Homo sapiens: one gene and its partner. The protein of the gene in region 1 interacts with the protein of each later gene in a pairwise test. Each region holds a gene or a part of one and is shown on either strand. Other genes may lie near its edges.

Region 1 (3,500 bases):
GGGCATTCTTCTCTCCATTATTTGCTTTAGTTTCACTGTCTATGTTCATACCTGTCAAAATTGAAAACAAATATTTATGACAGAAACATAGCAGGAATTACCAATACTAATCAATTTTTCTTCTGCCAAAAATTCCTCTCACAGTCTATACCATGTTTTGCTTCTTGGCCTAACTAAAAGAATCAATAAACTTTTAGTCCCCTTTGAAAGAGAAAGTCAGAGAGTAACAGAGAAGGAGATCAGAGGTAGAAAGGAAAGCCAGTAAGATAAGACAAAAATAAGCAAGAAAGACAAGGAAGATTGCTGAGCAAGAGAGAGTGTGAGACAGACAGAGAAGAGGGAAAAACCAGAAAAAGCACAGAAGTTATTCTTCTTTGGAAATGTAGAGCAGCACCAATTCTTTTCCTCTCTCTCCTTATACTGAGGGGTTCCCACTCCCCCTACCCCGCACCTTGGTATTAAGGTTTTTAATGCTTGGAAATGGTTTAAATGATGGGCAGGGTAAAGACTGTCAATATTCCCACAAGGCTGCTGCAAAGGCTCTCGGTAGACTCCCGTAGCCTCTGCCAAAAGCAAACCCTACCTTGGAGCTCTGCCGTCTGGTTCCCCTGCTCCTCTCTCATCTCTGCAGACATGGGAGTTTTGCCATCAACAACATCCATCTTGATCATGCCAAGGTTTGTCAGGAGTAGCATTGGGTCGATCCCCTGACCACTGCTCTTAATATTCTCCAGTACCTTAAGACACTTGTATGACTTGACCTCACTTATATTTTCCTCCAAGAAGAGATTGTAGAGGCTCAAATCGTTGTACCCTTCAGATTTGAAATGCAGAACATCAAAAGTGGGGAGGATTTCGTACACTTTGAGAACATCTGTCTTCTGTCGGAATGGAACAAACAGCGTGTAGACAACCACGGGAGCCAGCAGGACATAAACCACAAGGTTAATGACACTGAGCAACTGGAAGATGCCCACGGCAATGAGTTTGCACTGAAACTGATCGGGCACGGTGCTGTCGTTTCTCAGGATCCCTGATTTGATGCTGCACACAAACTCGTCTGAGAGTGAGGAGAGGCTGAAGTAATAGCCCAGGTAGATACACGCTAACAGTATAATGATGAGTGTCAGCAGGCGGCAGCTAATGTACTTGATGATTAAATTATTAGAATTTTTCTTTGTCTTCAAGTACTGCTCCACAATTGGGTACTTGAAGTGGCTTTCAGATACCTCCCACAAACTAAAAAATAAAGGAAACAAAAATAACTTAGGCACTCATCAAGACCATCAAATATTAAAGGCAGATACACATTCAACAATGTCACACTAAAAATTTCAAACACCCATACTTCTTTACCTACAACGTCAGTAGTCAAAAATAAAATCCGTTTAAAAGAGGAGGAAGAAAAGGAATAATAAAATGCTTTTCCCCTTAATATTTAACAGAAGGCCTAGTTAATTAAATGAGTTAATATTTGGAAATTTTTAGAGTGATGCCTGGCATCTGGTAAATCCTAAATATGTGTAAGCATACGCCTCTTACAGGCAAGGGGTGGGACAACTCAGGGGGTATGGGCAAAAACTATGGGGTCTAAAGGGCATGGTTCAGTTCCCAGACTCTCACTTACAGCTACAGAAGAGTATTTTTATCCAGAATAAAAGTGGAGGAGGAGGTTAACAAATGCACTAGTAATGTTGCTCTGAGGGTTAAAGGAGATAATGTACTTAAATAACTCAATACGGTGTGTGAGATATATTAAATATTCAAAAAATGATGGCTCTTATTATTATTCCAATTATTCAATAACAAGAACCAAAAGAAGGTTGTGAAAAGGCAAGCCACGACCTACTCATTCCCCATTTCTCTCTCATCCCTTGCTCAGCTGCCTTGAAATCCTCTGTGCGTCTCCATTAAGGAGTTAAATAGATCAAAGCAAGCAAGCTTCATATAGCACCTCAATCTGTTACCCCTACAAGAACTGCATTTTTAAAATGAGATGTAATGTTTCACTCATCAAGGGAATGAGTCTTGACAGAAGGATAAACAAATGGGTAGGATGGGTCGCGGTGAGATTTGGGGAGAGTGGACATCCCGGGATACTACAGGCTGTCACTAGGTGCATGACGTCCCCCTGCTTCCACTCCTGCCCCGCCTCCTAGCAATGAGAACTCTGGGCCCAGACTGGCAGTAGAAGGGCAGAGAATTTGTCCTACAAAACCCGATGAGCTGCCTGCTGGGGCTAAGTTACCTTTGCCCTAAGTTCTCGGTAACACCTGGAACTGAGCAGGCTCCATCTCTCATGTCAAGGTCACGCGCACTCTTTGCAGCCTTAATTGCACGGTTGTAAACTTTGTCAAGTTCTTCCATGATAAACTTCAAGTCTGAGCAAATATGAGGAGCAGCTGCGAAACGCCAGAACAGCGGGGGCAGGTACAGGAGGATCGCAAAGAGCAGCAGGATGTAGGGGAAAAACTGAAAAACAAGAGAACAAATCATGGGCTTAACAAACCCCCCATGCAGTAACCTATGGCGCCAAGTGATGCTCTCATTTTCTCACATCTTGAGACAAATGTGTATTGTGGAAATTGGGCTCATTACCTAATAACTACTTCTTATGGCTAAATTCCCCTGTCCAGGTAATACCTGTCACAGGTAACTACCTATTTTTTTTTCTTCCATAGGTATTAATTTGAAGTAATCAGCAACTGCATGGTGACACATGGTGTGTACGTTCTAATCACAGAAGGAAAATAAAAAAATAAAATTACTCCCGTTCCCTGAACAAAATCCCAGTTAAGAAACCTGCAGCTATCACGAAGGCTTCTGCTGGGTTTTTGTTAACTTTTATGGTTTTAAGAAGCAACTAAGGCATACGGCTCCATTTTTGCCCTACTCTGGAATCTGGGAAAATGCCAAAGAAACATGTAACTTCCCCCAAAACAAATTAGAAAAGCTTCGACTTCAGTGATTCAGTAATCATCCCAATAAGACAGCTGAAATAAGCAGTTGAATTCACAGAATGCAGAATGAATGTGGAACAGACTTTGAAGGCAGTCCAACACCCTCATCGTATAGTTGGATAAACTTGGGCTCAGAGAGGCCATCCACAACGGGCAAGGGAATCAAGAGGAGAGCATCCACATCAGGGTGCAGACACACACCAAACAAGAGGGGATTCACACGTCAGAGAGGGTGAGGAGCACCCCAGTAACCAGGACCACCAGTTGGTCAGAGGTGGCTTAGCCTCAGCAGAAGACTTAGGAAGACCGTAAATTGCAGTCAGTGCAGATCTGAATTGAAGCTCAGCATTGCGGCCTTGGGCAATCATGTCTACTCTGCAGAACTAAGTAGCTGCGACAGTGACCATGTGATCTGCAATGACAAAAAAACTTTATGATCTGGCCCTCTGCAGAAGTTTGCTGACCCTGGTCTAGGCCCTTGATGTCACTTTCGACTATCCTTTTGCGTGATCTTCTAATCAGCAATAAGACATAAGAGTA
Region 2 (4,113 bases), on another chromosome or scaffold:
TCGTTTTATAAAATGCACAGCCAAGCAAGCTCTTCCCTATGGCAAACTTGTACACATAGTACACATAATTGTTTCTAACCTGTGGCTCAGAACTTTAAATGGGCTTTTGGTAACTTGGTAACTAGCATCTAGTTTATTTTCTTTCTTTTTTTTTTTGAGATGGTGTCTCACTCTGTCGCCCAGGCTGGAGTGCAGTGGCGTGATCTCCACTCACTGCAAGCTCTGCCTCCTGGGTTCACGCCATTCTCCTGCCTCAGCCTCCAGGGTAGCTGGGACTACAGGCGCCTGCCACCACGCCCAGCTAATTTTTTGTATTTTTAGTAGAGACAGGGTTTCACCGTGTTAGCCAGGGTGGTCTCGAACTCCTGACCTCGTGATCCACCTGGCTTGGCCTCTCTCTCAAAGTGCTGGGATTACAGGCGTGAGCCACCGCGCCCGGCTGCATCTAGTTTATTTTCATCTGGCACGGCAGGCTGTTGAGGTTTTACATCTTGAGCAAGAATAACAGCCACCATCCAATGGGCACATACTCTGAGGTAGGCACTATGCTGCTTGCTGTTCATTTGCTCTGTCTCATTTAATCCTCACCCAACAACCCATTGAAGGCCATATTATTAACCCAGTTATTTTGTTTGTTTGTTTGTTTGTTTTTGTTCTGAGACAGCCTTACTCTGTCACCCAGGCTGGAGTGCAATGGCGCGATCTCAGCTCACTGCAACCTCCGCCTCCCAGGTTCAAGCGATTCTCCTGCCTCAACCTCCCGCATAGTTGGGACTACAGGCGTGTGCCACCACACCCGGCTATTTTTTTATATTTTTAGTAGAGACGGGATTTCACCATGTTTGCCAGGCTGGTCTTGAACTGTTGAACTCGTGATCTGCCCGCCTCGGCCTCCCAAAGTGCTGGGATTACAGGTGTGAGCCACTGCGCCTGGCCTTTTCCCAGTTTTATAGGAAACTTTGGCTCAGAGGTGTTAAATCACCTGTCCAAGATCACAGAGCCAGTGAGTAGAAGATCTGGGAGTTGAACCAACACAGACTCCAGGCACCACATTTGTAACCCGTGTGCTAAATTAGATGCAGGTACAAGGAGGTCAGACACTTTAGCTGATTGGCTAAAGAATCTGGTTGATGCTACCAACCTAATTTGTGTGCATATGAGGGAGGCCTGTGGCTCAACACACACATTCTTTGGAGAGAGGATCATCTACAAGATTAATGAATTCAAGTAATTATTCATTCCATTTCCATCTTTCCCATCACTGCTTTGTTCCTGCTCTGTCCCCTATACTTGTCACCATGCTGGCATGAAGGACATTTCCAAGAAATCCTTGTTGGTTGAATGAGTCATAGAGAAGAAAAGAAAAGTGAAAGGAAGAAGGACCAGGGAGGGAAAGGGGATGGGTGGAAGGAAGGAAAGCGCTAAAGGGGCAAGAGTGAAAGAAGAAACAGGAAGAGGCTAGGAGATGGATGGGTGGAGGAGCGACCTCCCCAGCCTCTCCTCCACAGACTGCCTCAAATGTACCCGTGAGAATCCCCAGGTTTCCCAGTATCCTCCTCCCCCAATAAAATATCCTGCCTTCAGCCTTCACTTCAGGAGCTTCTCCCAAAGAGCTAAGGGCCGGCTGAAGCCCACCCCTACCCCTGCCTGACCCCTTGCCCTGCACACCCTTAAGTGGGCTCTGGGCTCTGCCCTATTCTCAGAGCCTTCCTCAGCTTCCTGGCCTGGCCTCAGAGCTCAGTGCTACCTTCCTGCCCCACTTCCTCTTCCTGCCTCCAAGTTCCCTGGAGATAAGGCCATCCAGGCATTGACCCCTAGCCAGGCCACATCCATCACACCTCTGTCAGTTTCTCCAAGGCAAAATCTTAAAGCACCAAGCCTACTTCCTGCCCAGTCCATTTTCCCAGGAGCCCTAGGGAAAGGGAGAAACTGGCACCAGCTGTTCCTGACATCTTTGCCTTGGAGATGGCAAGTGAGGACAAAGGCCAGGATCTGCAGCAGGAGTGGGGATGACTCAACTCAGGAATGTGTCACTAGGTAGAGGTTAGCAGGGAGTCAGGCCTGTGCCATACACTGATAACTTCAGTGGAACTTTCAGAGTAAACATCTCCCTTTCTCTTTCTCTAGGGGAGGAGTTCGCCCTCCAACACCCTGCCATGGGGCTGGAATGGCCTCTGCCACCCCATCTGCTCAAGTTTCCAACTCCTGAGCCAGGCTTGGCTCCTCACAGCTGCGGAAAGGGCTGACGAGGTCGTTACATTTCCTACCACTTCTTAGCAGTGGGTTCTGAGTGCCAGGCGGGTCTCTGCCACTGTGGCTCCTTTAACCTCGCAAGGACCCAACAAGGCAGGTATTACTGACCCCACTTCACAGACGCGGAAAAGGAGGCTCAGGGAGGTTAAGTGACTTGTCCCGGGTCACAGAGCTGGGATCCCAGCCCGGAGTCCGACTCCAAAGTCGGTGCTCTTAACCGCTTTGCTTCAGGAGAATGGGGAGCCCGAGTCCCGCTCGCTCTGCGCGGTGCAGCCAGGACGGGGCTCACGCATTTCTCTCCCATGCGGCGCGCAGGGAGTGGAGGGTCCGCCCCGTCCTGCTCCAGCAGTGGTCACCGCCTCAGGTCTGGCCCTCGTGGGCCCCAGGGGAGGCCCCAGCCCGCGGACTTTGGACTCCTCTCTCCCACCCTCGCCACTCGCCCTCTGCCCGTCGCAGGGCTGGCCGGCCCCGCCTGGGCCCTCACCATCGCTGCTGCCGCCGCCGCCTCGCCCGCTCCCGGCTTCTCTGCCTGCGGAGCGGCCGCAGTGCCAGCGGCCCCGGAGGAAGAGCAGGGGCGGGGCGGGGCGGGCCGCCGAGCGAGGGCGGGGGGCGCGCCTTCCGCGAGTGGCGACAGAAACCAAGTCAAATCGAAAGCGATGGGCCACAGCGACCTGGGTCCGTAGAGTCGGACCCTCCCGGGCCCCAGGAGCCTGAATTCGGATGACACCTCTGCCTGGTGAACGGGCACACCTCGGGGCCGGATCTGTGGAATGGGCACAGTGGAGTGAGCCCTGGAGTCTTCTAGCTCGAGTTCAGCTGAAAAGGCATCATTCATTCACTCAACAAACACCCTATGAGTGCCACGGTCAGGCACCATACTAGGTCCTGGAGACGCCATGAACAAGCCAGGCAGGGTCTTTATCACCCTGGTGAGTGCATCTCACCCAGAACCAAAAACAGGCACCCAAAAAGTTTTGAAACTAAAGACAAGTGGTGGTTGCACAACATTCTGAATACATGTCACTGATCTGTACACTTTAAAATAACAAACTGTACATTGTGTGACTTTCACCTCTATTCAAAAAGAAAGCAGCCCCACATGGGCAAAGTACTAGCTCTAGCCTTTCTGTATGTCTTTCCTCACCATGAGGGCAAGTGCAGCTCTGTGCTGTCATGCACCCGCCATGCACTTGCTCCTCAGTCAGAGGATGGGGGAGGCTGGTGTATCTACTACCACTTCAGAGCCTTCCTGAGCCGAATCTACCCATCCTGTCCTCTCACTGCTACAGAGAAACCACCAGCTACCTGTTCTCCACTACTCCAAGCTGCCTCGGACATCTTAAAATAAGGTCCCTCGTTTTTTTTTTTTTGTTTGTTTGTTTTTTTTTTTTGAGAGAGACAGGGTCTCACTATGTTGACCAGGCTGGTCTCGAACTCCTGGCCTCAAGCAGTTCTTCTGCCTCAGGTTTCCAAAGTGTTGGGATTACAGGTGTGAGCCACTGGGCCTGGTCCCTCAAGTGAGGCCTCTCTTGACCAACAGAATTGAAAGTTTCCCTCTCTGGGGCTGAGCCTCTGTGAATACAGAAGTCCCAGACCAAGAGGGTTTCACAGACACTCACCCCCACCTTGGACAGCCTGGGTCCCAAGGCAGAAGCTTCACTTCAGTTCCTTACACCTTGAATCCAGGAGAGAGAGGATTAACATGTTGTAGCAAAGACTACCCCAAGCCTGGGCACAGTGGCTCACACTTGTAATCCCAGCACTTTGGGAGGCCAAGGTGGTAGGATTGCTTGAGCCCAGGAGTTTGAGACCAGCCTGGGCAACACAGTGAGACCATGTCTCTACAAAAAATACAAAAAT

What was found. The genes of interacting proteins can lie anywhere in the genome.
Region 2: the proteins of PANX1 (region 1) and VAMP5 interact in binary tests that used the Homo sapiens proteins (3 or more experiments, as listed by UniProt).

What each region holds. Positions count from the first base shown.
Region 1 is NC_000011.10:94,177,341-94,180,840, reverse strand, and holds part of PANX1 (pannexin-1), read right to left. Parts: intron 2,473-3,500; coding exon 2,249-2,472; intron 1,240-2,248; coding exon 584-1,239; intron 52-583; coding exon 1-51. UniProt on the Homo sapiens protein: Ion channel involved in a variety of physiological functions such as blood pressure regulation, apoptotic cell clearance and oogenesis.
Region 2 is NC_000002.12:85,583,118-85,587,230, reverse strand, and holds the start of VAMP5 (vesicle-associated membrane protein 5), read right to left. Parts: upstream 2,801-4,113; 5' UTR 2,741-2,800; coding exon 2,738-2,740; intron 1-2,737. UniProt on the Homo sapiens protein: May participate in trafficking events that are associated with myogenesis, such as myoblast fusion and/or GLUT4 trafficking.